2 separate regions of the Homo sapiens genome follow, and region 2 is linked to region 1. The links come from fine-mapping of genetic effects on gene expression. A gene starts in region 1. The other region holds a variant in brackets. All regions are shown on one strand. Distances are between the middles of the regions. Region 1 holds the start of CIBAR1 (CBY1 interacting BAR domain containing 1). Region 2 has its middle 72 kb from the start of MIR378D2.

Region 1 (16,341 bases):
TTTAGAAGAGTAAGTAGAGTTGGCTAAATCAGGGAAGCATGGGGAAACAGAAGCCATAACCGGGATATGTGTAGCTTCATCTTCTATCACCCTCCAGCAACTACTATTTATTTCTGAAAGTCTCAAATCCCTTTACTTGAGCATAGCAACTCACCTAAAGTAACACATCCATTTTTAGCAAAGAGAATATAGATTTCTAATATTTCTTCTTTTCACTGAAAATTCTTCAAAATTCTATAATATACCAACTTGAGTAGGAAATGCTTTGGATTAAAATACTAAGATACAACTCCATGAATACAGATATCAGTATATTAAATGGAATTAATTAAGAGTTCAAAATGATTTTTAAAAGGGTAAGCCAGATTGGTATTTCTCACACTGCATTATAGGAAGCTTGTTCAGGAGTCACCTGGAGCCCTACTTGGGGGGTGAGCAGGCAGAGCCATGGGATTCTTCTTTTCCCTATCCTCTCTATCAGAGGGACTCCATTTTATCTTACATATCAAACTTAAACATACTTCTACATAGATGAATTTTAAGAGTTTATCCTGGGAAATATGCCATAATACTATGATCGAATATTTGTATATTTATATTGACTACATTTGTATGTAGATTGTCCTTCATGTTTTGGTCTCAGGTTGTCAAAATACACAAGTTGCAGATCTTACCCAGTGAGCACACTGACTCACCTGTGGCAGTAATCTCTTAGGTTATATTTATTTCCTCACCATGTGAACCCAAAGACCTGCTTCATCTGTGCTCTAAGATTATCTCCCTTCCACAGCAGTGTTTACAGCACAGCATCCAAGTCAGAAAAATGTTTGTCTTAGGAATAGATTCATTTCTGTGTTTACTGTAGACACCAGTACTCCTGATTCAATCTTGCCAACTACTCAGGATTCCAGATGTCTTCATGTATCACCACCTCCCCAACTCCAGGCCACAAAGAACAAAACAAAACAAAAAATTTTCATCCCTAGCTTAATTCTTAAACACTGGTGAACCCCCCCACCCACCCTGCCCCATAGCCTCTGCCTTGATCTCTAGTTATCAGTCATAAATTTTCCAGCATTCTCTGGTTTGTCTGACTTGCTTAAAACACAGATTCTATAATCTCCATTTGCGGATCTTATGCCACTATGACTATCTAGATATTTCTGTCCCAGTCTCCAGTGGGCACTCCCAGCCCTATGGCTGCCCATTTTTGTTTAGTACAAAGTTGGGCTTCTGTACCTTTGGTCCAAAGGAAGAAGGACCAAGCAACTGGCGCAGCCCCAAATCGCTGCTCAAGAGACTCCCCTCAGGAATGGAGGTGTTCTGGAACCTCAAATGCTCTCAAAGAGCCACTCCTCATGTGGTTTCTGGCTGAGCTGGGCAGTAACAACCTTAAGGAAGCAGGAAGGAGACATATAGAAGAAGGAATGGGAAAAAGAGGCAGTAGGGATGTTAGTGCTTTCTTTCTCTTTTTCTTTTTTTTTTTTTGAGATAGTCTCGCTTTGTTTTCCAGGCTGGAGTGCAGTGGTGTGATCTCAGCTCACCACAACCTCCATCTCCCACGTTCAAGCGATTCTCTTGCCTCAGCCTCCCAAGTAGCTGGGACTACAGGTGTGTACTACCATGCCTGGCTAATTTTTGTATTTTTAGTAAAGACAGGGTTTCACTATGTTGGCCAGGCTGGTCTCGAACTCCTGACCTCATGATCTGCCTGCCTCGGCCTCCCAAAGTGCTGGAATTACAGGCACGAGCCAACACGCCCAGCCAGATGTTAGTGCTTTCTACACAGTCCTACCCATCTCAGTTGCTGGCAATTAGGCACTATTTTGTATGCTTTTGTTTACTCACGAACAAGGCACATTGTAGTTTAAGAAAGTCATGTTTAACAGAAGAACCTTGTTATAGTAGACAGTCCTTTCTAGGTTTGTGTCCAACTTGGATCTTAATTATACTCTTAAGACTCCTGAGGTTAACTGGCTGGAAGTCATGATGTCACATAGTTGTTTTATTTCTAAAAGATGAAGGAAATTAAATGGGAAAATTTTCTTTCCTTTTCTCAAAGCAGGGCATAGAGGACACTGATATATTAGGATTAACAATAGATCTTTAATTGTAGAATTAATATTTAGTCATCACCATGTGAAAATAAAATTCAGAAATTTGAATTTACTGTTTATAAAAACATCTGAATTTTTTGTTTGTTCGTTTGCAAAGTCTACTGTGTAAAACAATATAAGGGGATTTGAATTAGGTGGCGTAACCTCTTTAAAATTTCTATAGTGAGAATTCCTAAATGCATTTCTTTTCAATCTTTATATTCAAATTCTCTACTCGTTTAAAAGTAAAAATGCACAATTTCTATATACATTTACTTTTGTACTCCATACCTTAAACATTTTTTTAAAGACCCAAATTCAAAGGATACAATAACATGTCGATCAGATGGGTTTCGCTGACGTGTTCTTTCTAACTGAGTTAATTGCTTAGCTTCTCGATTCCTTGCTGTGAGTGTTGCTTTGAGGTCATCCTGCAAATTGGCATTTTTTTGTTAGTAAAAATGTCTGACTTAAGAAAATTCAGTTTTAAGAATGGAAGAATTCTTTTAAGAATTGTTTTAAGAATGGAAGAATACTTCTTGTGTGATCCTGGTACCATTACCACAGGAATTACAAGTATTACATAATTAGTGTCTATGTATGTGAGAATGTGTTTAATATTCTCTCAAAATAATGACACAATTTCAGTGCAAAACTATTAACCATAATAGATATATGCATATAAATGTGTAATTTTGATTGCGGTAGTGGTTACATGGGTATAAACATTTGTCCAAAACTCAATGATCACTTAAAATGGAAGAATTTTATCGCACATAAATCAAGGGCTCCCAACCCCCAGGCCTATTAGGAACTGGGCCAGCACAGCAGGTGAGTGGTGGGCGAGCTAGCATTAAGGCCTGAGCTCTGCCTCTTGTTAGATCAGAGGCAGCATCAGATTCTCATAGGAGTGCAAACCCTATTGTGAACTAAAGAAAAATTGTCTTCCACAAAACCGGTCCCTGGTGCCAAAATGGTTGGGGACTGCTGATGTAAATTATCAATAAAGTAACTTTTAAAAATAGAACTCTCTCACACATTTTAAAAGTCTAAATGCTATCGCTTTAAAGAAAAACTTATATTCATATAGTAAAGCAATTTCTGTCCATATATTTTTCATAATTATTTTAAAGTTTCCATAATAATGTCTATATTGCTACAGTATACTTAATAAGCTCATTAAAACTATTTCATTATTCTTAAAGATCTAAGTGATCTTTCAGAGTAAAAAGAATGACTATATACTACTTTGTATTTCTTTTCTTTTTTTTTTTTTGAGACAGAGTCTCACACTGTCGCCTGTGCTGGAGTGCAGTGGCGCTATCTCAGCTCACTGCAACCTCTGCCTCCTGGGTTCAAGCGATTTTCTTGCCTCGGCCTCCTGAGTAGCTGGGATTACAGGTGCATGCCACCATGCCCAGCTAATTTTTTTTATTTTTAGTAGAGACGGGGTTTCACTATGTTGGCCAGGCTGGTCTCAAACTCCTGACCTCGTGATCCGCCCGCCTCGACCTCCCAAAGTGTTGGGATTACAGGCATGAGCCACCACTCTTGGCCACTACTTTGTATTTCTTATTTAAAAAAACAATTGGAAACCTCATAGTCTTTGCCAGAGTAACTCACAGTTAAGTGAGAAAATGGATTTACTTACCCGTTTCATTTTCACAATGGTCCCATAAGTTTTCAAGGGTTCAACTACTTTGGCTTCAAGTCTTTCAACCTATTGAAAATTATTAAAATTTTAAATTAGAACGTTTAACATTTTAACCTATAAATAAAAGGCTAATCACTAGAAATTGATAAGACTCAGAATCTAAACTCAAAACACATTAAAAACTGTTAAGCTGCACAGTAATAGTAAAAGTAGAAAAGCACCTGGTGAGCAAAATGACAAGAAAATGTCTCAGGTTTCCCAGGAGCTCATCCTGGCCACATCATCATCTTAGGATTACTTTTTTACCTTAAAGTAGTAGTTTAAGGGTGTTAAGACAGTTCAAATTTTAATACAGCTAACATTTTCAGTGTGTTCAGCACAGTAATGGATACTTTGCATATATTATCTCTGAACTGTAATAGCTCAACTTTTCAGAAAAGAAAATCAAAGCTGAAAGACAGAGCATCTTGGAAACATTTAAAGCAACATAACCTTGAAAAGCAAAAAAGCTTAGAGATCACTGTATTTGCTGCATTTTTTTTTCTGAGAAGCCATTTGTGAATTATCGAAGCCTACAGAACAAGATAAATGGTCTGAGTTGCTGAGCTGTCAAACTGTATGTTTCATCTCTGTTTCATTTAGAATTAAATAGTTTTTCTTAAACGTTACAGGTTTTTAAATCACATTTTGAGTAATTACTTCTTTTACAAGTAGTACTAGTGGAAGGCACTGAAGAGAGATTTTTTTTAAGGCAAGTATTTAAATATAGCATAAGAAAAATAACTCTTGGACATTAAAATTTTTTTTCTCAAGATAGGTGATGTATTCAATTGCTTAAAATGAACATTTTTTAATAGCAGGAAAAGGGCTTTTTAATGATACATATTTATATAATTGACAAATACACTTAATTTCATATTGATTTTTCTTTAGTTTCTGTAAATGAAATGTATATGAATGTTTCATTTTAAAACATGTTAGGAAAATAAAAATCGACTTCTCATCAAGTATTCAAATATTAGGAATCCTAAAATCATGGATATTCAGGACAGTTTGCTTTACACCATTTCTTATAATCCATACTGATTATTCAGTTTAAGGATTATCTAAGTCTTTTTTCTGTTCTCCTTTTTGTTGCCTACCTTTTTGTCATTGTTCATTAGGACCTCCACCATTTGGTAAGCAAGGGAAATAAAAGGAGAACAAATGCAAATCAATTCACTTTGCTATTTGATAAATAGCACAAAGGTTTTCTACAAAGGGGCATTGAAATTATTGGCTAAAATAAGATTTTAGGATTACCTGTGAATATAAATTATCTTTGAAACATTAAGTCCCCAGTTATCATATATAATTGAGAGTTACTTGTTTATTACAGAAGTTTCATGACAAGAACTCCACATTTTTCCAAAAGTACCTCCAAATATGATTACTCTTCAAATTTGTATGGATAGCAATGATGAGTTCAATTTTTTTTATACTCATTCTGTTTTTTGAAAATTGAAATTCCCGTTTTAGGTTCTGAAAAGTATAAAAAAGCAACGCAGTTCTAACTGGGCAACTTCTGATAAGTTAACCTATGCCGTGAAACTGAAAATAAATACAAGTAAAAGTGCTTATTAAGTATTTAAAGGAAAAATATGGGCTTTTAGAAAGAAAACAATCACAAGGACACTTCTCCTGCTACCCAGAGCAAAAAGTCCACACGGTGTCTCAGTATTGGTTTGCTTCCATGATACAATTCATAGCATTTTGTTGTTGTTAGTAAACCATTGGTCAATTTTCCAAACCATGGATGCAGCAATGATGTCTTACCCATTTATTAATAATTTATCCATCCACATTACCATTCCCAACATTTCCATCTCCAGTCATTCTTTAAAACGTACTTATGTGCCACACAAGACATTAAGTTATGCTTATTTTCTTCCCCCTGGGTACTATTCCCACTACCCCCAGTAAACAGCCACCCCTTGGCCAAAAGTTGGCAAATAAAGTGGGGAAATTCAAGACCTCAAGATGCCCTAAAGGTTAGCTTGAAAAGGGTAAAATAAAACACAGAACGCTTCTCTTTAATAGACTCACACAGTCTTATGAAAATGTACGTTTTATCAAGTTTGCATCCACCTCTGCAGTTAGGTAGATTACAAGTGAAAGTTTCCACGGTTCCTTCATCCACTACTTCATGGCTCATTCATAACAATGACACTGTGATCTCACTCCATACCTCTGCTTGTCGATAATCCTGAAGTTTGGCAAACTCATCTGCAAAGTTCATCAGGCCCAGCTTTAAATGCGGGGTCTCTGTAGCAGCATACGCGTTAATTTCATTCACCAGGAGGTCTGCTTTGTCTCTCAGCCTGGCAGTTTTCCGCACATAGGCAGCGAAGATTTGGCACAGTTCTCCAAAATGCTTCTCCACATTTGAGACAGCTGTTTGCAGTTGTTTCGTTTGAGCGTTCCTAGGGAAAAGGTGACACAAAAGGCAAAACATTCTCGTTAGAGATGAGAAGGCTTCACGTTAATTTAACATGCAAACATTCCCCGGGCATTCTGCAGCTTTGAAGGCGTAAACCCATCAACGACCCAGCGTCTCCCGGCGCGGACTGCTCTCCATGGGGTCCTGACCTCACTATCCGGACTGTGTAGGCACAGGAAAAGGCCCAGGCCGGGTGGGCCTGGCCTTAACTGGGGAGGTGGCTGCTCCGGCTGCTCCGCGCAGCGCGGCCTGGGCGCCCGGCTGCCTCCTAGGCTTCCGCACTGCCCGCGGCAGTGTGGGGACCCGAGACCCGGTGGCGTGGGTGGGTGGCAGCCGGCCGGGCCCCGGGCTCCTCTTCGCCGCCGGCGGTGGCTGCAGCCCAAGGAATTAGGCCCCAGGTCACAGCGGGGACCGTGCAGCCTCCCACTCAGGGTCGGAATTCGGCGCAGAGGCCCCATGGACAGAGGCTTCCACTTCCCTCACCCCAGCCCTCCAGTGTGGGCGGCCCTGGGCAGCTGGGCTCGGGCTGTTACCGGTTTTCCAGGGTGCGCCTCATCATGCTGCCTCGCGCACGGCCGGGGACCTTGCGGGGGCCCAAGGACGGGGATTCCAAGGCGCCTGGGCGCGCGCTGGGGCGCAAGCAGCCGCCGGGAGCCTGAAAGCCCGCCCCTCGCGCCGCCGCGGCAGGCCGGGCGTTTCTATGGAAACGGGGCGCGCGCCCCCGCGGTCAATGCCCGAGGCAGCCTGAGCGCGGCTGGGGCTCGGAAAGCGCCAAGCAGGCAGGGACCGAGAGGGGTGATGGCGCGCCCACCCCTGCAGAGCCGCCTGCGCGGTTGTCCCGCGCGTCCCTGCCGGCGAAGGCTGTGAGAAGCACCGCGGGGCTACGGCGCCTCCATCCTCTCTAACAGCCGCGCTTACCAGACAGCCAGCCTCCAGCGCTGCTAGGCTACTCCGAGCAGGGGAGAAAAGACGCCGGTCCGCCGGGGACCAGGAGGGAGACGTGAAACCAGAGGCCCGGGGGCCCCCTCTCCGCCTGTGCGACTTGTAGTCTCGTACCAGACGCGTCCGCTTCACTGCTGAATCTGAAAACGTGGGCTCTTGAGAGCTGCCCTTGGAAGGAGCTGTGCTTTCTGCCTCATCTTTAACTTTTCGTTTATTCAGCAAATATGTATCAAGTTCCGACTTCGTGGAAGAGATTGTGTTAGACACTGGGAGTAATAGAAACATAATTAAGAAGCAGGGGTCCCGGACCTGAAGGGCCTGAGCGTCGGGTAAGGAGGCAACGCTTACACCGAACCTGTGCTGAGATAAATAACGAACAGTTCTGGCTCTTAGAGTTGGCCTGGGGGAACAAAAATTCAAAAAGAATAAAACCCCAAACAAACAGGAGGCTCTCCTTTGTCCTTTGAACGCCTCTGTCCCTTTGACCCTCCTGGCCTTGCGTGTGCTGCTTTTCCCAGTAAATACTGCAAGGACTCTATTCAGACTTTGTTTATTTATATATGTATTTTAGATGGAGTCTCGCTCTGTTGCCCAGGCTGGAGTGTAGTGGCACAATCTCGGCTCACTGCAACCTCCGCCTCCTGGGTTCAAGCGATTCTCCTGCCTCAGGCTCTCAAATAGCTGGGATTACAGGCGTGCACCACTATGCTGGCCTGATTTTTTGTATTTTTAGTAGAGACGGGGTTTCGCCATGTTGGCCAGGCTGGTCTTGAACTCTTGGCCTCAAGTGATCCGCCCCCCTTCAGCCTCCCAAAGTGCTGGGATTCCAGGCGTGAGCCACCGGGCCCGGCCTCAATTCAGACTTTATCTGCTTCAAGAAACCTCTCTGGGATCCTCCGTCACTTCACTTTTTCAGGCAGCGTTAGGGCCTTGTCCTAACGCTTTGGGACGGGGTCCTAATACTGTCTGAAGGAGCGAAGTGTTGGAATGCTCAAACAGTACACTTCGTTGATTTTGTACTGCCTCCTGTACCCTAGACTTTGAACCCTTTGAGACAGATTAAATGTGATTTTGGTCTTGTATTCCTCGCTGCCGTGTGCTGCTGATTAAAAGTTTTTATTTTGTACAAATAGATGTCCTCAGTCCTTTGTTTTGAACTTCCCCTATTCGCTTGTGTTACAATGTGTATCTCTCTTTGCTCCTTGCATTCGCTCAGCATGTTATTGGTTGGATGCCTGGTGTGTTCCAGGTATTATGCTTGGCTTTGAGGTTGGCACAGTAACCTAAGGTCAGAATAGTCTGTGCTTTTAGAGAGCTCACAGTTATGTGGCAGTGATAGAAGCTAATCAAAGATGTGTAAAATTGCCACTGAGGTATGTGCTACTGTATCCACTTTTGCAGTGTAACAAATCACCACAAAACTTAGTGACGTTTTACAATCGTTTGGTTAGCTTGGGATTCTGAGTGAGCTGGGTGGTTCTTTTACCTTGGTTCTGCTCAGCTGGGCTCTTACTCACCTTTCTGGTCAGCTGGCGGCTGGATGATCTAAGAGGCCTCACTTCTGTGTCACGGCATTGGCAGGTCGTCAGCAGGGGCCACGTGTTTCTTATTGTCTAGCACCTCAGCCAGGCTTCTTTCCATGGTTTCAGAGTTCCAAAACAGTGGAGCAGGACAAGTCAACTGCACAAGTGCCTTTCAAGTCTCTGCCTATGTTATGTTTGCTGATACACTATTGGCGGATGCAAGCCATGTGGCCTAGACTAGAGGGATCAGAGTGAGAGGGCAGTGGAAATGTTACGGATGGTGTGGTTGGTAGAGGAATTGGTGGCTACTTTTCCAGTCTACTATTAGGGGAAACTACATGGCAGCAATTGAGTGTATACTTAATATAGAGGTTTGGTTTGAACTCATCAGGGAAGGACTTCATTGAGAAAGTGACATTTGAGCTGAGATCCAAAGAATAGGAAGGAGTCAACTAGGTGAAGAGGGAGTGAAAAACAGTCCCAAGAGAAGGACAGTATGAGCAGTTTGTCCCCTTGCCCTCCCCCAGCCCCATTCCCATCTCTACCCAGAATTTCATATCTCAGAAAATGATGCTATTGCCCAGTTGATTGTTCAAGTCAAAAACTTAGGAGTTACCCTTTCTTTTCTCCAGTCACATGGGCAATTCCTATCTGTTCCATCTCCAAAATATATCCTGAATCATTCTTCATTTTTTTCTACATCCCCATAATCCAAACTGCTACCACCAATCATCCTTACTGCAAACCTCCCTTACTAGTCTCCCCATGTCCACTGTTAAACATCGCAGTGTGAAATCAAACATTAAATCAGATGATGTCAACCCTCCAAAGCCTCTCAGTGTGCTTCAAATAAAAATTTAAATCCTATTCTGGCTATTAAGGCTTTATCTCATTTCCGCTTACCTATCTACCTTCTCTTGCTGCCCCACTGTGCTATAGACACATGCCATATGTGTGTGTGTGTGTGTGTGTGTGTGTATATATATATACACACACACACACACACATATATATGTATATAAGCTTCTCTCTCTCTCTCTGTGTTTATCTATAGATAAACTTATCTCACAGTTAGTTCTGTGTTTGTAATTCTCTCTGCCTGGAATGCTCCTTCTTCAAGTCCTCACATGGATGGCCCCTTCATATAAAATTGTACTTAAAAAACACCTATGAGTGGGGCTTTCTCTGATCACCAAATGATTCTTTCACCCTGTTTTGTTTCCTTTGAAGCACATGTCACGTCCTGAAATTAACCTGTTTATTTACATGCTATTTCTGTCTTCTCCCATCCACGTACTAACCGGGCTGGACCTCACTTAGCTTCCAAGATCAGGCATGTTCAGGTATGGCTGTAGATCTATTTCTGTCTTCTGTGACTAGAACATATTCTCCATGAAACTAGCCACATTGTTACCTGTTCACTTTATATTCCCAGTACAACCTCAGTGCTTGACTCATAGTAGAAATTCAATAATTAGTTGAGTTTATCAATGAATAAATAAATAAATGAGTGAAAACCCCATGACAGAGGAAACACAGTATGTGTGAGGACATGGAAGAAAGCTGATGAGGGTGGAGTGGAGGAGGTGGCATCATGTTCTGTCTGAGATTTAGTTGGAGGGGTAGATGGAAACCAGGTCGTATAGGGCATTTTGGCCATGCTAAGGAGTGTAGAGATTGGTTCTTGTATTAGTCAAGGTTCTTTAGAGAAACAGAACTAATAGTCTGTGTTTGTAAATATAATATAATATAATATAATATAATATAATATAATATAATATATAATATATTGTATAATTTTATTATAAGGAATTGGCTGAAGTAATTATGTAGGCCGAGAAGTCCCAGAATCTGCAGTTCACAAGCTGGAGACCCAGGAGAGCCAATATGTCATTTCAGTTCAAGTCCAAAGGCTGGAGAACCAGAAGAGCTGATGGTTTATTTCCTGTCTGAAAGCAAACAGGGTGGAGACCCAAGGAAAACAGATGACTGAGTCCTACTGGGAAGGCTAGAAAAGATGACGTCCCAAGTCAATCAGTCTGGTGGGAGCAGTTTCCTCCTACTGAGACTTTTTTCCTATTCAGGCCTTCGATTGACTGGATGAGGCCTGCCCACATTAGGGAGGGCACTCTCCTTTATGCAAATTTTAGTCTCATCCGTAAACACCCTCACAGACATGCGGAATTATGTTTGGTGGAATGCCTAATGACACATAAAATTAACCATTACAATCATTGTCTTTGTATCAATGTGAAGCTATTGATGTGTTAAAGCAAGTTATTTATTGTGTAGCTCTTTTTTTTTTTTTTTTTTGAGGTGGAGTTTCGCTCTTGTTGCCCAGGCTAGAGTGCAATGACGTGATCTCAGCTCACTGCAACCTCCGCCTCCCGGGTGTATAGACCGGGTTTCTCCATGTTGGTCAGGCTGATCAGAAACTCCCGACCTCAGGTGATCTGCCCGCCTCAGCCTCCCAAAGTGCTGGGATCTATTGTGTAACTCTTAAAGCTGTTAGCAAATGCTTGGTAAATGGTATCATAATTGTTGAACAGAAGCATATTGAATTATCCCTCTTCAATCTGTACTCAATATATGGAAATGAAAGTGCTCAAGGAAATTTCCTCCTAAGATACGGGCTCTTGATTTTACTCTTCTGTCAACAGATATCTAAAAAACATGCATTAACACAATTGTTCTCAAATCTTTTTACTACTTGGAGGCATGTTCTTTCTTATAGGCTATACTTTTTCCAAGGACACATTATCTCATCAAAGAGGAGCTGGTGGCCTGGGAGGACAAGTGCCTTGGCCAGAATTGCATGATTAGATAGCAGAGGTGGAACTGAATCTTTGTCTTCTTTCTTCAATGTTCTTTCCAGAGTACCAGGATCTCTTTCTCTCTTAAAAGTGATTTTTTTTTTTTTTTTTTTTTCAAATCAAAGCCACAATGCAATACCACCTTATTCCTGCAAGAATGGCCATAATCAAAAAATCAAAAAATAATAGATGTTGGCATGGATGTGGTGAAAAGGGAACACTTTTACATTCTTGGTGGAAATGTAAATTAGTACAACCACTATGGAAAACAGTGTGGAGATTCCTTAAAGAACTAGAGGTAGCTCTACCACTTGATCCAGCAATCCCACTCCTGGGTATCTACCCAGAGGAAAAGAAGTCATTATACAAAAAAGATATTTGTACATGCATGTTTATAGCAGCACAATTCACAATTGCAAAAATATGGAACCAGCCCAAATGTACATCAATCAATGAGTGGATAAAGAAAATGTGTATATATACCATGGAATATGAGTGGATTATACTCAGCCATAGAAAGGAACATAATAATGGCATTTGTAGCAACCTGGATGGAATTGGAGACCATTATTCTAAGTGAAGTAACTCAGCAATAGAAATCCAAACATCAGATGTTCTCACAAGTAGGAGCTAAGCTATGAGGTCACAAAGGCATAATAATGATACAATGGACTTTGGGGACTCGGGGGTAAATTGGGAGGGGGAGACGAAGAATAAAAGACTACACATTGGGCACAGTGTACACTGCTCAGGTGATGGGTGCACCAAAATCTTAGAAATCACCACTAAAGAACTTATGTAACCAAACACCACCTGCTCTCCAAACACCTATTGAAATAGAAAATTAAATAAAATACAAAAAAGTGATTTTTTGCAAAGATTGTAAACAAGTTGAAACATTTTAATGTCATTCCATATTTGGAAGAAGGAGGGTGTGTGTCATAGGATCCATCTATCGCTGAGTATAGCATTTCAAAATCTCGAAATTATTGTTTCAGGTTATAAGCATTATAGGGTCTCACTTTTCTGAACTACTATGTGATATTTGTATATTTATTGTGAAAACAGCACAATATTATTTCGTGTAACGTTGAATGAACTCCAATTTATTTAGCATGTTTTAAGGGGGGCCTAGTGGAGGCGGAGAGTTGCATTAGCTTTATTTAAGTATTCAGCATTACTTGCGGAGAACTTGCCACGTACTAGGTGCTGAATTTAACATTCCTGAACTCAAGTGCTCAGAGCAATGCGGAAAGAGACACTGTAGAGGCAACTGGCTAATTTTGTTGAAGTCTTTTCCAGTCTCATTTCATCAGGAATTTAGAGATGATAATGTAGTTTAAACTAGATTATTTTAATTTAAAGTATATTATTATTTTGCTAATTGGAGTTTCCTCCTTCCCTTCTTCAGTTCTGTTTTAGAAATGAAGATGTTAAGTGACCAATCATGGTATATTGTATTTATTTGTTAAAAGTAGATTTGTGCCTAACAATATCACTCCAAATGCAGCTGTTCCATGTTAAGTAGCTTAAACAAATTGTTTTCATGATGATACATACAAATCAAACTTTTTTTTTTTCCAGCAAAGGATTGAGTGTGTGTTTATTTACATGCTTTTAAAAGGTTCAGCATTTGAGGAATGTCGGGACTCCCTCTAGCGGTAAATTTAATACTTAAAGTTGCTTGGTCAAGCACTGGAAGACAAAGGGAATAGAATGAAACTGCCCTGGACTGCTATCTCTTTTATGACCAGTTTTTAACTAGAAATCACCTATTACTGGTCTTCTTCTTAGTATAATAGGGAGAGAGTACAATTAAGTAATTAAGTACATGGGCTTTGATGGGCTCTGATGTCTAATATCTGGATTTAAAGTCTGGCTCCACTGCTCTCTCAAGCATTAGCAAGAATTACTTGCAGGACATGTTGAAACACAGTTTTCTAGGCCCCAGCCCCGGAGTTTCTCATTTAGGAGGTCTGAGGTGAGGATCAAGAATATGCCTTTATAACAAATTCTCAGGTGTTACTGAACCTGCTGGTCTCTACCACACTTTGGGAACCAGTGGCCTAGACTCCTGGAGTGCCTCACATTCCTCAGGGGTTAGCTCTGAGGTTGTGAAGATTAAGCAGAGTACTAGATGTTAAGTGCTTAGTATGGTACCTGAAATAGTAAGTGGTCCACAAAGGTTAGTGCCTACTAATACCATAGATTTGTCAGTGTTTCTCTAACTTGGAGAATTCAAAAAGGGAGAACTTTGTAATAATATTGTTGAGCTAATATTGTTAGCTAAGTAAATAAACACACACTCAATATTTTGCTGGAAAAAAAGTTTGATTTGTATGTATCAGCGTCTTATCATTAAGGTCTATGTGCCTAATACTACATAAGCACCGTTAATATACCTATTAGCATCAGTCTAATTATTAATACATTCATCTTTTTGTGAATTGATTTGAAAAATTGATACAACACAAAAGAAAAAACACACATGGGAGGGTATGTTAAGGAGACATAGGAGTCAATTAAAAGAGCTCTGGATGGCCAAAGCTCCAACAATTTGAGCAAGAAAATAAAGTAGTAATGGATTATAACCCAAAGTAAAAAATTAAATATTCTTGAGTCCATGCTGAGAGTAAATTAATGAATGAATGGAGAAGAAGAGACAAATCTCCCACAGAATAATTCCAAATAATTTATGTAGCTACTCCATCCTCAAGGAGGTGGAGTAAAAGTCCTGTCTCCTTAAGTGTGGGCTGCACGTAGTGACCTCTTTCCAAAGAGGACAGTATGGAAGGAAGAAAAAAAAGTAATTTTCCCATGGAGAAACATGACAAACACTACCTCAGCCAGGTGATCAAGGTCAGTATCAACAGCTATGGGTTATGTTCCTAGTATGTACCCTTTTTATGACATGATGAAAATGGTATCTTACACCTGTGGTTTTCCACCTCCGAATCCATGACCCCAGTGTAATTTTGAGAAAATGACAGATAAATTCCAATAGGGGGAGATTTTACAAAATACTTGACTAGTACACCTCAAAACTGTCAAGGTCATCAAAAACAAGGATAATTTGAGAGACCATTATAGTTAAGAGGAACCTAAGGAGACATAAACTTCTACTAAGTGTAATGTGGCAACCCAGAACAGAAAATGGGCATCACGTAAAACTAAAGAAATCTGAATAAAATATGGGGAAAAATAAAGCAAAGCCTTTTTTCTTATAATTAATTAATTATTTTCGAGACAGGGTCTCATTCCATCACCCAGGCTGGAGTGTAGTGGCACGGTCATGGCTCATTGCAGCCTCGACCTCCTGGCCCCAAGTGATCCTCCCACCTCAACCCTCCAAGTACCTAGGACCACAGGCAAGTGCCACCACGCCTGGCTAATTTTTTTTTTAATTTTTTAATTTTTTTGAGACAGAGTCTTACTCTGTTGCCCAGGTCAGAGTGCAGCGGCACAATCTCAGCTCACTGTGACCTCTGCCTCCTGGGTTCAAGCGATTCTTGTGCCTCAGCTTCCTGAGTAGCTGAGACTACAGGTGCACCCCACCATGCCTGGCTAATTTTTGTATTTTTAGTAGAGACAGGATTTCACCATGTTGGCCAGGCTGGTCTCGAACTCTTGACCTCAGGTGATCTGCCCACCTCGGCCTCCCAAAGCGCTGGGATTACAGATGTGAGCCACCATGTCTGGCAATTTAAAAAAATTTTCATAGAGCTGATATCTCCCTATGTTGCCCAGGCTGATCTCAAACTCCGCAGCTCAAGTGATCCTCCTGTGTCGGCCTCCCAGATTGTTGGGATTATAGGTGTGAGCTACAGCACCTAGCCTTTTTGTCTTTTAGAAAAAATATTGATACATGATCATTATTAGAAATTTCATTAATACTGAGAAGCATAATATAGGAAAAAACACCAGTGTTTTCATTATAAAATGTTAATATTAGGTGAACATTTTTCTAGATCTATCTATTTATCCGGAAGGTAAAGGTAGAACTTATATATGCGTAAGTTATATATATGTTATATATGTGTATTTATAATGAGAAGAACATATAAATACATAAAAGACAAAAAGCTTTGCTTTTTTATTTCTCCATATTTTATTCAAATTTGCATATATATGGAAATCTGAATACAATTCAGATAAAATTCTGATAAGATATATCCTCCCATGAAGATCACTTGAGCCCAGGAGTTTGAGACCAACCTAGGCAGCATAGGGAAATCTCAGCTCTACAAAAATAAAAAAACTTAGCCAGGTGTGGTGGCACTTGCGTGTTTTCCTAGCTACTTGGAGGGCTGAGGTGGGAGGATCACTTGGGCCCAGGAGGTCAAGGCTGCAATGAGCCATGATTGTGCAGTAAGATATATATAAGTTACATATACATATGTATACATATATAACACATATAGATATGTTATATATATGTTACACACGTCTCTTCCTGTCTACATATATATAACATATCTATATAACTTATATCTATATAAGTTATATAGTTATATATGTATATATAAGTTATATAGTTACAGTTATATATAGGTTATACAGGTTATATAGTTACATGTAGAGTAGACAGGAAGATCTTATAAAAATAGGATTATAAAAATATAATTTTTGTGTTTGATTTCTAAGTTTACTTTGGGGTTTTAAAATGTTTTCACAATATGAAATACATCCAACATACAGAAAATAACAGACACCTATACATTCACTGGGAAGATTTTACTAAATTTATTTCAGAATTTTAGTAATCAAAAGTTCTCATGATAAAAAGTACTCTTCAGACCAGTGGATTTTTTCTCATGATGATCACTATCTTCAA
Region 2 (16,341 bases), 140 kb before region 1:
TGCCAAGTCATATGTTGAAATTTGATCTCCATTGTTGGAGGTGGGGCCTGGTGGGAGGTGTTTGGGTCATGAGGGGTCTCTCATGAATGGCTGGATGCCATTCTCAAGTGACTGAGTTCTCACTCTTAGTTCCCAAGAGAACTGGTTGTTGAAAACAGCCTGGCACCTCCTCCTCCCTCTCTCTTGTTTTCTCTCTCTCTCACTATGTGATCTCTGCACACACAGGCTCGCCTTCCCCTCTGCCATGATTGTAAGCTTCCTGAGCCCTCAGATGCAGATGCCAATGCCATGCTTCTGGTACAGCCTGCAGAACCATGAGCCAAATAAACCTCTTTCCTTTGTAAATTATCCAGCCTCAGGTATTCCTTTATAGCAACACAGAGAGATTAAGACAGCATTCCTTATATTTTGGTTTTTGTTTGTTTGTTTGTTTTGAGACAGAGGCTCGCTCTGTTGCCCAGGCTGGAGTGTAGTGGCATGATCTTGGCTCACGGCAACCTCTGCCTCCTGGGTTCAAGTGATTCTCCTGCCTCAGCCTCCTGAGTAGCTGGGATTACAGGCATGCACCACCACATCTGGCTAATTTTTGTATTTTTAGTAGAGACGGGGTTTCACTATGTTGGCCAGGTTGTTCTCACACACAATAAATTGTCCCAACACAATTTATTGAAGAGATTTTCCATTCCCCATTGTGTGTTCTTGGCACCTTTGTGGAAGATCGATTGACTATAAACACGTGGATTTATTAATATTTCTGGACTGTCTATTCTGTTTCATTGGACTCTGTGTCTATTTTTGTGCCAGTACCATGCTGCATTGATTACTATAGCTTTGTACTGTATTTTATTTTAAAATATATTTTACTGCTCCTTGTGAAGCAGGACTACCCCATAGGCAGCATGCCCAGAATAGCAGCCTGTGGTGTATTTTAAAGTCAGATAGTATGATTCCTCTATCTTTGTTCTTTTTGCTCAAGATTGCTTTGGCTATTTGGGGTCTTTTGTGGCTTTATATAAATTCTAGGATTTTTTTTCTATTTTTTGTGAACAAATGTCATTGGTATTTTGATAGAAATTGCATTGAATCTGTAGATCACTTTGGACAGTATAGACATTTTAAAAATATTAATTCTTCCTTTCCATAAACTTGGGATATCTTTCCATTTATTTGTGTCTTCCTCGATTTCTTTCATCAATGTTTTATAATTTTCAGCGTATAAGTCTTTTGCCCCCTTGGTTAAATTTATTCCTGTTTAAATTTTTTGGTAGCTATTGTAAATAGGATTTTAAAAAAATTTTAAAATTTTACCATAAAGTTTAATTATGGTTCAGAAAAAAATGAACAAATAACTTTCTCTGAAAAAATATATTGACACTGTATAGATCACAGTTATTAGTGGGGAGGGGCTGGTAGGTTTAATTACCCTGTTTTCTTTTTCTTTTTTTTTTTTTTTTTGAGACAGAGTCTTGCTCTGTCGCCCAGGCTAGAGTGCAGTGGCGCAATCTCAGCTCACTGCAACCTCTGCCTCCGAAGTTCAAGCAGTTCTCCTGCCTCAGCCTCCTGAGTAGCTGGGATTACAGGCCCATGCCACCACGCCCGGCTAATTTTTGTATTTTTAGTAGAGATGGGGTTTCACCATGTTGGTCAGGTTGGTCTTGAATTCCTGACCTTTGGATCCACCTGCCTTGGCCTCCCAAAGTGCTGGGATTACAGGCGTGAGCAACTATGCCTGGTTTCTTTCTTTTTTTTTTTTTTTTTTGAGACGGAGTCTCGCTCTGTTGCCCAGGCTGGAGTGCAGTGGCACAATTTTGGCTCACTGCAACCTCTACCTCCTGGGTTCAAGCGATTCTTCTGCCTCAGCCTCCCAAGTAGCTGGGATTACAGGTGTGCACCACCATGCTGGCTAATTTTTGTATTTTTAGTAGAGACCAGGTTTCACCATGTTGGTCAGGCTGGTCTTGAACTCCTGACCTCGTGATGCACCTGCCTTGGCTTCCCAGAGTGCTGGGATTATAGCCATGAGCCACCGTGCCTGGCCAATTACCCTATTTTCTATTCTGAAAATGATATTAATAGAAAGTCCCATTTCCAGTCTGAGTATAAAGATACAGGTGCCCCAAATGGCTGAGAATAAATACAACAGGAAATGCAAAAGCTGTAAAGCTAAGGGCATGCAAGAGAAAAATCTCAGAAATACCCCAAGTGGCAACAAGGAATGTTTGGCTGGAACTTGAAGTTCTTTCAGTCATCTTCGTCTTTTGCTCCATGTTTTAGGATGCATGTGAACTCAATATAATTGAAATTTCCCTTTTTGTCAATAGGATCTTCTCTATACAGCTCATCCACTTCCTCATCCATGAACCCATCCCCCCATGGTTGTCAGCAGCTCTCACAGGTAATCTTCCTGAATGGTGCCAGTTGCTTCTTCATCAAAGCAAGCAAAAGCATGTCTGATGACATCTTCAGGATCTGTGCCATTTAACTTCTCACCAAACATGGTGAGGAACACGGTGAAACTGATTGGGCCTGGAGCCTCATTCATCATGGCATCCAGATACCAATCAGTTGGACTCTTCCCGGATGAAGCAAGCATATCCTGCAAATCTTCCTTGTCGATGAAACCATCTCTGTTCTGATCAATCATGTTGAAGGCCTCTTTGAACTCCTGAATCTGTGACTGATCAAACACAGCAAACATATTGGATGTCGTGTGCTGAGGGCACTTCTTGGTGGTCTTGGTGTTTGCTCTTTTGCTTGACATGGTGGTTAAATCCCAGCACAGCTACGAGAATCCAAGCACGTCAGCGAGCCCCTCGCTGCCGCTATCTGTAAATAGGATTTTTAAAAATTTCTTTTTCAGATACTGCATTGTACTACATAGAAACTCTACTGATTTTTGTATTTTGAATTTCTATCCTGTAATTTTACTGAATTTGTTTATTAATTCTAACATTTTTCTGGTGAAGGACTTAGGGTTTTCTATATATAAGATCATGTTGTCTGCAGAGACAACTTAAGTTCTTCTGTTCTAATTTGGATGCCTTTTATTTTTTCTCTCACCTAACTGTTCTGGCTAGGACTTCCAGTACTATGTTGGACAGAAATGGTGAGAAATCGAGTATCCTTTTCTTGTTCCTCCACTGAGTGTGATGTTAGCTGTGAGTTTGTCACATATGGCCTTTATTGTATCGGGGTACATTCTTTCTATATCTAATTTGTTGAGAGTTTATATTATGAAAGAATGTTGAATTTTGTCCAATGTTTTTTCTTCATCTATTGTGATAATCATATGATTTTTGTCCTTAATTCTTTAAATATGACGTATCACATTTGCTGATTTGTGTATGTTGAACCATTCCTGCATCCCTGGGATAAATCCCATTTGATTATAGTGAATGATTCTTACGATGTACTGTTGAGCTCGGTTTGCTAGTATTTTGTTGAGGATTTTTGCATCTATGTTTATCAGGAACATTGGCCTATAATTTTCTTTCCTGATAGTGTCCTTGTCTGGCTTTGGTATCAGGGTAATGCTGGCCTTGCAAAATGAGTTTGAAGTATTCCCTCTTCTTCAATTTTTTTGAAAGAGTTTGAGAAACATTAAGTATTAGTTCTTCAAATGTTCTTCTTTATATGAAATTGAGTTTGCTTTTTGAAGAGATTAACAAAATTGACAAACCTTTAACTAGACTAAGAAAAAAAGAGAAAGACTCTCTCTTTAAAGAAGACTTTCTCTAAATAAATGAAAGAGGGGATATTACAACTGATACCATAGAAATACCGAGGATCATAAGAGATTACTCTGAACAAATTATATGACAACAATTGGATAAGCTAGAAGAAATGGATAAATTCCTCAACACATATAACCTACCAAGACTGAATCATGAAGAAATAAAACATATGGCCAGGCGCAGTGGCTCATGCCTATAATCCCAGCATTTTGGGAGGCCGAGGTGAGTGGATCACTAGAGGTTAGGAGTTCAAGACCAGCCTGACCAACACGTTGAAAGCCCATCTCATCTAAAAATACAAAATTAGCTGGTGTGGTGAAGCATGCCTGTAATCCCAGCTACTCAGGAGACTGAGGCGGGAGAATTGCTTGAACGTGGGAGGCGGAGGTTGCAGTGAGCTGAGATCCCGCCACTGCACTCTAGCCTGGGCAACAAGAGTGAAACTCCGTCTCAAAAAAAAAAAAAAAACAAGAGAGAGGTGAGAGAGAATATATGAACAAATCAATAACCAGTAAAGAGATTGAAACGGTAATAAAAAAAGTCTCTCATCAAATGAAAGTCCAGGATCTGATAGCTTCATTGTTGAGTTCTATAAATCACTTACTCTTACCATTTGATATTTTCCTTTAAAGTGACTCCCTTTTAAGCATTATAACTATTTTATAAGAAAACTGTGTATCATTTGATAACTGGGCAATCTGTTTCACCTGCTATACATAGATGAAAAATAAAAATAAAAGTAAGGAGAATAAAATGTAATTAAGTTCGAGGTAGATAAAATTGTCTGCTGATGATGCTCAGCCTGAAACTTGTCTCATTAAAAAGAGCTTGGAAAAATGTCATTAAGTTGAAACTTTCTCCTTGACAAAAGGATTCAAAGAGAATTGAAACAGGGTGACTTTTCTGTTATATGTGAGTCATATAATAAATTCTGGAATAATTAATTCTGTTATTAATGAATACATTCTGCATTCACATAGCACCTATAATTACCTCGGGAACCATGGTGTTCTACTTAACATACTCCATAAAATACCATGCTGCAGGCACAATTGGAGAACTGCTTGTTTTATGGATATTTTTGCAATGGCTGTCTAATCAGAATGATTATAGATCAAAATACATTAAGGATAGAATTCTGGCATTAAAAAATCTGTATAAAATGGGGAAGAAAAGAAAAAGACAACTTTCTTTTGATATGCCCCCAAAAGGAAACATCTACCAAGACCTTCTTTTACTGAGTTTAAAGCTCTTTACAAATTACTAAGTAGTCAAGTCTGATGCTGATTACAAACCAATACACATTGTTTCAGTGCTCTCTTCAAGCAGAAGAAGCAAAAACACTGAGTGCAATTAAAAAGGTGACAAGAAAGAGATGGAAGACAAATCATGAAGAGGCACGAAACTGATGTGTGCTTCCTCAAGCATTACTCTATAATGAGAAAACATTTGCTGGAACAAGCCTTATACTCTCCACAAAATGCAGACTTGGCACTCATTCCATTTCTTTTTTGGAGGCTGAAAATGTCTTTGTCTACTGGTGCTGTTTAAAAGTTGTCTAATCAACATCATCATAATGCTCTGTCCCTCCTGCGAAAGCCAGCTGGGATCTCTGTTTCTATCAGGGAGCAAGTTTTAATACAGCCACTTTCCTTTCAACATATTGGCTGGGAAATCTCCCCTGCTGGGAAGTAAAAAGCTTTAATTTTGTGAATCATCAAAGCTTTTTCTTATACATGGTGTAGAATAACCTTTCCTTTTCAGAAAGTCTAATCCAATAGCCTCCCAGACCTCAGGATGTCACCAAATGGCATGTGCGTGCAAGAAGAACAAAGGAGGAAGCCATTCAAAGCCCAGCTGCATATTGCATAACACCTTGAATTAGAAAATCCACGACCCACAAAACGCTTACCTACTTTGTGCGGTTTAAATAAAGCAGAGTGCTACTCCTCTTTAAAGAACTGCTTTACAGTTATCTTCCTGTCAGAATTCCAATTATTCTATGACTCAGTGGGTAAGTGTTTAGCTTTTTGAAAACTTTTTTTGGGGTAAGAATGTGAACAAGTTTTTATAAGTTTGTAAAGGAAAAGTTTATATAATAATGCTCAGCTGCATCAAATACAAATATATTTTATTTCATTATTTGAAATAAAATATTTTCTTAATGTTTTAAGAATTGGATTTTATCTATAAAATTGATGAACATTTTCTTTGGTACATCTGAAAAACATAGTAATTCCCTCCTATCTAGGAATTAACTGATATTTGTGACAGGGTTGGGAGTATTCAATATGCACCTCTCTCAGACCTTGGGACTAAGGTTTCCATATAAGAAGAATCCCAGGCTGAAAATTTTTATGTACCAGGGATTCATTTTTCCTAATTTTTACAAAACCTGTGCACGGGCACTTTTTGTTTCATCTGTACCAAAGACTAGCTGCTGCTCACTTTCTCCACTTCCATTTAGCTCTGGGGACACAGCTAGATACTTCTCAACTCCCCTTGCAGATAAGCATGGCTCTGTGGCTCATTCTGGCCGAGGGAACTTACACAGAAGTGATGCGCCCACCTTCAGCCTGGCCCATAGAAACCTCTCCCTTGCCAGTCTTCTCGTCCACAATCTACTCGCTGAGTGGCAAAGGATCCAGGCAAAGAAGTAGAGGCTCTAAAAGGGTACCCAAGTCACAAAATGAACCATCACATGCCAATCATAAATATCCACAACGTTGAACTTTGAGTGAGAGATAAATTTTTATTGTGTTAGATCACTGATATGTTAGAGTGCTATTGTTTTTGTTTTTAAAGTAGCTCTTAATATGATCACCCGATGTCCTTGCTTCTTTCTTTTGGCCTCCCTCTGCTCTTTTTTCTTGCTCCTATTATCTTTCCTTATCATATGATTAGGTGTTTCTGATTTAATACCTTAGTGGATTTAGGATTAAACCCTCAACGGTGTTGAAATAATAAGCAGACTCAATTGATTTAATTCGGAGAAAAGGTTTCACCAATTCGACTTCTTAAAAAGCTTACAAGTTAAATATTTGAGATAACTTTTATTAAACAACTGCTTGAGTGGATGAGCATTTATCTAGTTTAGAGATCACATAAGAATCATGGTAATTGGGACAAACGTGGTGATCTCAGCATGAATGACCCAGCAGATGTGTACAAGACAAGCCTCTGCTGATAAGAAGGAAAACTAATGTGCATGAACTTTGAAGGAGAGACTTGGAAACTCAGCCAACTGTCTTTATTTGAATGGCTCTGCAGCTTCTGGTGGGCACATATAGACATTGAAATACAGGGTCAGACATCCGTAAGAGCAGGCCAGGATGAGTGTTAGTACCGCGAATAACTGGGTGAAGTTTCCAAAATCATTAAAGTTTCAAAAAAGCTCTTCACAAACAATCTAAAACTAAAATTCCAGTCTGATTTTGCATGAGCTGCTTTCTTTCAGACTCCATTTAGTGGTTAACTCACCCTCTTCTGTTCTTCATGTAGGTGGTTCTCAAACTGGGCTCAGTTAAACCTGTTCAGAGGCTGTCTCAAGAAGTGGGCTCCAGGCAATTCACTCTGGATTTAACCAGAAAAGCTTCATTTTGAGCTGTTTTGCAAACTGGGTTTTAGCATAAGCATTTATTTTGTGTGTGAGTGGAAAGGTTCCTTGGCTTTAAAGAGCTACAAACCATTGCTTCATGTCTTACCTGGACATCACATCCACTGTCAGAGGTTTAGTCTCACAAATGCCCAGTGATGTCCAAATCTGAATCTATGGCACATTTCTTTTCTGAGCACCCCCCTCATAGTCCCACTCACATTTCACATCTCCGCTTACTGGATGTCTCATAGACACCTCGTCACAATATTCCTGAAATAGAACGTATTATCCTACCTACTCTTCTTCCTTAATTAATGACATCACCATTCACCCGATTACTCAACATAAAACTCTGAATCATTCTGACCCCCTTTCCTCTCTCTCTCTCTATATCCAATCTGTCATTAGGTTCTGTTTTGTAAAGCGTCCTAAATATCCTTTAAATGTGTCCTTTCTCTCCGCCCTCACTGTCACTGCCTTGGCGTAGGCCCTTGTCATCATCCTTCATCTGGATCATTAAAATAGTCTCCAGATGGCTCTCATATCACTCTGCTTCGTGGCTGCCCTGAGGGTTTATATAAAATACAGTAGAACGCATAACAGTTAACATTTACGTTTAGCTTTGTAGTCAACCGATGCTTTCATGTACATTGTCGTATTTAAGTCTCACAACATTTCAAAAGACATTGTTATTATTCTTAATTCAGAACAGGAAAATGATGCCTAAGAAAATTGAACAAGGAGTCTCACCAAGTCATAGGACTGTGATTTGAACTCAGATCCAAAGACTCTAAAGTTTACTCTGATGACATTAAGCTATACCTCCAAACAGGCATCACCATGCCTAAAAGAGAAAGTGCAGAACTTGTAGTCTGAGAAAGCCTCTTTATAGTCATGCCCCACAGAGCATATTTAGTAGTTAATAATAGAGCTGTGGAGTTAGAACTCACATTATAGTGTGAAACCTTAGAGAAATTATGTAAACTCTCTAATCTGCAAAGTTTCTTAGTTTCTTAATCTGTGAAGTGCAGCTAATAATAGAGTTTATCCTACAAGGTTGTTGTGGGGCTTAAATAAGGTCGTGAGTGTGAAGCCCTTCACACTTGGCCTGTCCCGGAGAAAGTGCTCAATGAATGTTGGTTGTTGGTACCGATTTACCAGCCTCATCCTGCACCATTTCCTTTCTGTCTTCCACCCTTCAAACAGACCAGACCATATTCTCTGCTACTTCTTCTTTGAAGCCTCAAAAATTCAGGTTGATGACTCCCCGACCACTTTATACCACCCCTACAGTTAGATACTTGGTTGGTGAGTATAGCCTTTAAGTCAGCAGTGGATTGTTTCCTGGGGTTGGTCAATAGGGCCTTGAGAAAGTCCCCCACACAACAGAATGTTCTTCCCACAAACTCTCGCTGGCCTCCTGCTTTAGGCTTCCCATTTCCTTGCTCTGCCTCTCCCCCATCCCCTG[C/A]CATTTCTGACTTCAGATGTGTCCCCTAGGCTTGCCCTGGCTCCACTTTCCAGCCAGCTGCCTGGCCCCAGCGTCGTGGCAGCTATCTGACCTCAGCTCCACACCAGTGCTGTGCTTCTGGGCAAGGCTTTGGCATCTTGGTCCTACTGTCTCTGGCATCTGACCTCAGTCTGTCCTGTTTCTAGCTTTCCTGGAGCTGACAACTCCCAGAGACCAATCAACAATGGTTCAGATGGGACGATAATAGCTCTTATCACACTGTTTCGTGTTATTTCTTTGTCTTTCTCGTCCATTAGGCTAAACCCTTCCAGGACAGAAAGACCTTGTCTTTGATCTTAGTAGATCCTTCATAGCATCAGGTTTAGAATAAGTGAGTGCTTGTTGATTGAATAGACTATTCTTTCTCCACATAGAGGCATCTGATAGCACAATCTTCTGAAACTGCTGTTGTACAACCACATTCAGATTAATGGGAGGTACATACAACTGTGGTCATATGTGAAGTTTTTTTCCCCACCAGAATAATATAAAAAAAACACCCCTAAAATAGTCTTAAAAAATTATTTTCCTGCCAGGCGCAGAGGCTCACACCTGTAATCCTAGCACTTTGGGAGGCCAAGGCAGGCGGATCACCTGAGGTCAGGAGTTCAAGATCAGCCTGGCTAACATGGTGAAACCCCGTCTCTACTGAACATACAAAATTAGCTGGGCATGGTGGCGCATGCCTGTAATCCCAGCTACTCAGGAGGCTGAGGCAGAAGAATTGCTTGAACCTGGGAGGTGGAGGTTGCAGTGAGCCACAATCGCGCCACCACACTCCCACCTGGGAAATGGAGTGAGACTCTGTCTCCAAAAAAAAAAAAAAAAAAAAAAATTTCCATTATATGCTGACAAGTTTCTACAAATTCGACTATGTCATCAATTGTCCTCATTAATTTAGTTTCATTCTATACATTTTCTTTGTTAACCCTTTGCTTTTCATCAAGCACTTTGTTGATATTAATCTCTTACTTCTGTACATAGAGTCCTTGAAAGGAGTTTTATCTTTGTGTTTTCTTGCTGCACCTTGTTGAGTAACTTTTTCCAAGTACAGTACATGCTACATAATATTGTTTAAATTGAAATATACAGAAATTTTTGCAGCTACAAAATAACCTCATTTTGTGTTTGATTAAACTATCACAGCTTTCATTAAGATACATTTTTGTTTAACCACTAGACCTTTTATTTATTTATTTATTTATTTATTTATTTATTTATTTATTGAGATGGAGTCTCACTCTGTCACCAGGCTGGAGTGCAGTGGCATAATCTCGGCTCACTGTGACTTCTGCCTGCTGGGTTCAAGCGATTCTCTTGCCTCAGCCTCCTGAGTAGCTGGGATTACAGGCATGCACCACCACGCCCAGCAAATTTTTGTATTTTTAGTAGAGACAGGGTTTCACCATGTTGGCCAGGATGGTCTTGATCTCTTGACCTCATAATCTGCCCGCCTTGGCCTCCCAAAGTTCTGGGATTACAGGCATGTGCCACCACGCCCGACCTATTTTTATTTTTATTTTTTATTTTATTATTATTTTTCTGAGACAGAGTTTCGCTCTTTTTGCCCATGCTGGAGTGCAATGGCACGATCTTGGCTCACCGCAATCTCCGCCTGTCAGGTTCAAGCAATTCTCCTGCCTCAGCCTCCCGAGTAGCTAGGATTACAAGCATGCACCACCACGCCTGGCTAATTTTGCATTTTTTAGTAGAGACAGGGTTTCTCCACGTTGGCCAGGCTGGTCTCGAACTCCCGACCTCAGGTGATCCGCCTGCCTTAGCTTCCCAAAGTGCTGAGATTACAGGCGTGAGCTACCGCGCCCAGCCTTATCTTTTTAAATCTGTAAAACAGTAAGGTTGCTTAGATGAGCACTTTCTTTTCAACTCCACCGCCTGTAGTGTGTGGTTGTGAGATGTGACTAAAAACTCTGCTGTCTTCTTGTCTCAGGTGATCTTAGAATTAATAGAGGAAATTTTAAAATTCTATTGGTTTACTAAAAAGAAAAATGTACTTTGAAATTATTAGTTTTTAAAAGAAATAAGCTTTAGAAAAATGCAAATTCATGCAACAACAAGATACCACTTTTTAATCTATTACCTAAAAACATATGGGTTAGGGAAATGCACATTAATGAAAAGAGATACCACAAATTGCCTACCAAAAATATGATTATCCCTGGTGTTGGGAGGCATTATTGTACACCACTGGTGGGAATGTAACTTGGTGCAATTTTCATGGAAGACAATTTGACAGTATGTATGCACCAGACTTAAAAATGCATATAACAGCTGGGTGCGGTGGGTCATGCCTATAATTCCAGCACTTTGGGAGGCTGAGGTGGGCAGATCACTTGAGGTCAGGAGTCTGAGACAAGCCTGGCCAATATGGTGAAACCCTGTCTCTACTAAAAATACAAAAATTAGCCAGAAATCGCTTGAACCCAGGAGACGGAGGTTGTAGTGAATCAAGATCGTGCCATTGCACTCCAGCCTGGGTAACAGAGTGAAAGTCCGTCTCAAAAAAAAAAAGAAAAAAGTATATAACCACCCATCTGACAATGGGTTAATAACCAGAATATACAAGGAGCTCAAACAACCCTAAAGGAAAAAAATCTAATAATCTGATCAAAATATGGACAAAATATTTGAATAGACATTTCTCAAAAGAAGACATACAAATGGCAAACAGGCATATGAAAAGCTGCTCAAGTCTGGGCACATGCCTGTAATCCCAGCACTTTGGGAGGCCAAGGTGGGTGGATCACCTGAGGTCGGGAGTTTGAGACCAGCCTGACCAACATGGAGAAACCCTGTCTCTACTAAAAATACAAAAAAATTTAACTGGGCTTGGTAGCACATGCCTGTAATCCCAGCTACTCGGGAGGCTGAGACAGGAGAATCATTTGAACACAGGAGGCGGAGGTTGCAGTGAGCTGGGATCATGCCATTGCACTCCAGCCTGAGCAACAAGAGCAAAATTCCATCTCACAAATAAAATAAATAAATAAATAGAAAAGCTGCTCAATATCATTGACCATTAGAGAAATGCAAATCAAAACTACAATGAGATGTCATCATTGATAGCAATGAGATATCAGCTAAAATGGCTTTTATCCAAAAGATAGGCAGTAAGAAATGCTGGTGAGGATGTGGAGAAAAGGGATCCCTGTACGCTCTTAGTGGAAGTGTAAATTTGTACAACTACTATGAAGAACAACTTGGAAGTTCCTCAAAAAACTAAAAGTTGAGCTACCATTATGATCCAGCAATCCTACTGCTGGGTATATACTCAAAAGAAAGAATATCAGTATATTGGTGAGATATCTGCACTTCTATGTTGCAGCACTGTTTACAATAGCTAAGATTTGGAAGCAAACTAAGTGTCCACTGACAGATGAATGGATAAAGAAAATGTGGTACATATACACAATGGAGTACTATTCAGCCATAAAAAAGAATGAGACCCAGTCATTTGCAACAACATGGATGTAACTGAAGATCATTATGTTAAATGAAATAAGCCAGGCACAGAAAGGCAAACATCACATGTTCTCACTTATTTGTGGGATCTAAAAATCAGAACAATTAAACTCCTGGACTAGAGAGTAGCAGGATTGTTACCAGAGGCTGGGAAGGGGAGTGGGGGCTGGAAGGGAGTTGGGGATGGTTAATAGGTACAAATAAATAGTTAGAAAGAATGAATAAGACCTACTATTAGATAGCGCAGTAGGGTGACTGTCGTCAATAATAGCTTAATTGTACATTTTAAAATAACTTAGAGTATAATTGGGTTGTTTGTAACTCAAGGGATAAATGCTTGGGGGATGGATACCCCATTCTCCACGATGTGCTTATTTCACATTGCATGCCTGTGTCAAAACATCTCATGTACTCCATAAACATATACACCTACTGTGTACACACAAAATTTAAAAAATAAAAAGTAAAATTGTTCTCATTAAAACAAAATAAATAAATAAAAATGCATATAACCTTTAAGCCAGAACTTACTCTTTTAGAATGTTCTCCTAAAACCATCATTGAAAATAGATGCAAAGCTTTAGCTAAATGGTGGTTCGCAGCATTTTAATTAGAAAAGAAAAGCTCTTTGAATGCTTGCAAACTGAATGAAGTACCATTTCCCAAACAAGCAAGGACAGATATTTGAGCCTACTGCTCTGTAAAAATTGTGTGGCTGGACACACAATAGAGAAGAAACATGTAATCACTCCTCTCTGAGGCTGAACCATTGGCGGGAGGGAGGTAAAGGCCACTTTTCTTTATCCCTTCCCCAGCTCCATTTCAGGACAAACCAGAGGAAACTGAGCATCTTGCAAGCTGAGCAGTAAAAAGCTAGAAGGTAGAAAAGGAAGAAAGGAGGCCAGGTCAAACCTACTCCCAGACCCCATCTGAAGGGGCAGGTTCCAGAACACCAAGAAGACTGGGGGCAAGGAAAGCTCTCTTGTGTCACCTTGTAATCCCCATGTGTGTATAAATCAAATAGAAAGGCTCCCTTCTGCTCATAGGCTGTACTGATGGTTAGGATTTATTTTAAAGTTTATGACAGAAAATAATTTAAAGGTCCAACAATGGAAGATGGATAGAAAAAAATGCTTATAGAAGATTTTACTAACATGAAATTATATTTACAATATATAGATGAGTGAAAAAAGCAGGTTACAAAAAATGTATGCAAAGTTATCTCATTTCTGTAAAAAACAATACATACACACATATATATGTACAGCCACAAACAGAAAAAAATATGGAATGGTGATATGGTTTCAATCTGTGTCACTACCCAAATCTTATGTAGAACTGTAATCCCCAGTGTGGGAAGTGAGGCCTGGTGGGAGGTGATTGGATCATGGGGGTGATTTCTCATGAATCATTTAGCACCATCCTCTTGGTGCTGTGCTCGTGACAGTGAGTGAGTTCTCATGAGATCTGGTTGTTTTTAAAAGAGTGTAGCACCTTTCTTCTTCCCTCCTGCTCCTACTCTGGCCACCTGCTTCCTCTTTCCCTTCCACTGTGATTGTAAGTTTCCTGAAGCCTCCCTGCTTTCTGTACAGCCTGCAGAACCATGAGCCAATTAAACCTCTTTTCTTTATAAATTACCCAGTCTCAGGTATTTATTTATAGCAGTGTGAGAACAGACTAATACTAATAGTATACTTTGAGGTGTTAACAGAACTCTAGGTACTGGGGCTAGATTCAGTAGCTAATAAGACAGACAAGACCCCTACTCATGGTGCTTTTATTCTCATAGGGAAATAGATAACATAAACAATAAGCTAATAAATAAATATATAATATATGATACATATTGTTGTCAGTTCTGGGGATACAACTTTGTGAACACACTAGGCAGTTATGGTCCCTGTCCTAACAAGTTTTCTTGTCTGCTATGAATAGGGAAGTGAGGAGGCTGTGGGGACCTAGAAAAGGGACACCTGACCTGGTCATGAGGGATCCGGGAAGGCTTCCCGAGGAGGGAAGTCCAGGCTAACAGCCAAAAGATGAGTAAGGAGTAAGGCAGTTGCAATAAGAGAGAGCTTTCCAGAGAGAGACCAGGGTAGGTTTTCAGACCTCAAGGAGAGAGGGAAGGAAGGAGGGCAGACAGACACACGGACTGGCTGAATGACCAACTGCTTTATTACAGGAATTCATTCTGGTATCTGTGGCACTTAGGGTTTGAGCATGGATGGAGCAATGAGGAGTAAAGAAGCCCGGGAAGTAGGTCATGAAGCCATGTTAAAGAGGGCTTGGCCTTGACCTTGAGTGATCTCTCAAAGGTCATTACGAGTAGTTCAAGGGCTCAGTAAATGAACTTAGCCCTAGTGTGTACTTCTTTAGGAAGGAACCATTTTTTAAATAATAGTATCTTTAAAACCCATTTGTGAAGAATATTTAATTACAGGGAGATATACTTATGCTGTGGTGCTTAAAGAGCAGGCTACAAAACAATGTGTATAGTATACATGGTAACCCCCTTATGGAAAAAAGTATAAATATGTTATATGTTATTTATAATGCAAAGAAAATGTCTTAGGGAAATATGCTAAAACCAAATGTAATCTGTGGTTACCTCTAATGATGGAATTACAGGTAGTTTTTGTTTTCTTTGGTTTTCCGTGGTTTTCAAAATTTCTACAATGAAATGAATATATACTCTTTTTATAATCAGAAAAAAATACTTAAGTGTGCTTTAGGGACAGAGAGCAGTGCCCTAAGGGTTATACATCACCAAGTGTCCTTGCCTATAGGCAGTTATTCAGGGGATAAAAATAGGCTCAACACTGAAGTCTGTCCAGGCATGGTAGCACATGCCCGTAGTCCCAGCTACTTTGGAGGCTGAGGTGGGAGGATCGCTTGATCCTGGGAGGTCAAGGCTGCAGTGAGCTGTGATTGTACCACTGCACTCAATCCTGGGCATGGGCAACAGAGCGAGACCCTATTTCAAACAAACCAAAACAAATAACAAAAAACACTGAAGTCTGGATGGGACTCCAGGACTCAACATTTTTTACTTGCATGAGATTTTACTCACATTTTTCTGGAACAGTTTGAATTGTAGTGTGAACTGCACTAAAGGAAGCGCTATTTTTTGACAGCATGACATAAATTTCTCTATTGGCAGATAGGTTTCACCAGTACAATCAATATGTATGCACATATTTTTGCATGCCTAAGCATGTCATTTGTATATGCTTTAAACTTTTAAGTCCTGTTTCTAAGAATTCTGTGCCACATTCGTCGTACTTGACAAGCCAGGTGAACCACCTAAATTAGATCATTTCTCCATTAAACTATTCTCAGCCTGGCTATGGCTGTCCTGAGGAGACTTTAGCGCTAGCTCTCCACTGAGGGGCTTGCCAGTGACCTTGGACCTACCACAAAACTGCTTTGGGCTCCAATTTTCTGAATCACAAATGAGCGAGGTAAGCTACGATTGCTAAGGTTGCCTAAATTCTATGATTTCGGGACTTATTTCCCATCGTAAAACTTGACAACATCCTAAAAACAGAGTGAAGACCCAACCCTCTTTGAATACTAATAATTTTCATTTCATTTGTTGACTAAAGAAAAAGCATCAGGCATTTTTTTTTTTTTTTTTTTAGATGGAGTCTCGCTCCGTTGCCAGGCTGGAGTGCAGTGGCATGATCTCGGCTCACTGCAACCTCCAACTCCAGGGTTCAAGCAATTCTTCTGCCTCAGCCTCCTGAGTAGCTGGGACTACAGGCGCGTGCCACCACGCCCGGCTAATTTTTACATTTTTAGTGGAGATGGGGTTTCACCGTGTTGCCCAGGCCGGTCTCGAACTCCTGAGCTCAGGCAATCTGCCCGTCTCAGCCTATCAAAGTGCCGGGATTACAGGCATGAGCCACTGTGCTCAGCCAACCATCACGCTTTTAAAGAATTAAGGCTAGCTTTATTTAGAAGTCTTCCTGAGGACTATGGACCAAGGTCTAGAGCCTGGGAGCAGTCTCGGCTCTGGTACA

What was found. PIP is the estimated chance that this variant, and not a neighbour inherited with it, causes the effect.
Region 2: its variant is the best candidate, but not a certain one, in a credible set for the expression of CIBAR1 in blood mononuclear cells (TOPMed, PIP 0.62).

What each region holds. Positions count from the first base shown.
Region 1 is chr8:93,691,095-93,707,435 of GRCh38, reverse strand. CIBAR1 (CBY1 interacting BAR domain containing 1) reads right to left here and starts at 6,886. Exons shown (of 9, transcript NM_145269.5): 1 at 6,763-6,886; 2 at 5,978-6,212; 3 at 3,748-3,816; 4 at 2,426-2,527. The coding sequence starts at 6,788. It overlaps CIBAR1-DT (CIBAR1 divergent transcript), which reads left to right and starts at 7,003. Exons shown (of 11, transcript NR_033858.1): 1 at 7,003-7,500. RefSeq lists silencers at 6,538-6,657, 6,848-6,987, 7,018-7,067 and enhancers at 6,634-7,258, 7,288-7,367.
Region 2 is chr8:93,835,981-93,852,321 of GRCh38, reverse strand. It overlaps the pseudogene MYL12AP1. Among named protein-coding and RNA genes, the nearest start is that of MIR378D2, 72 kb to the left of the region's middle. RefSeq lists an enhancer at 4,972-6,171. The variant C/A (reference allele first, on the strand shown) is at 8,801.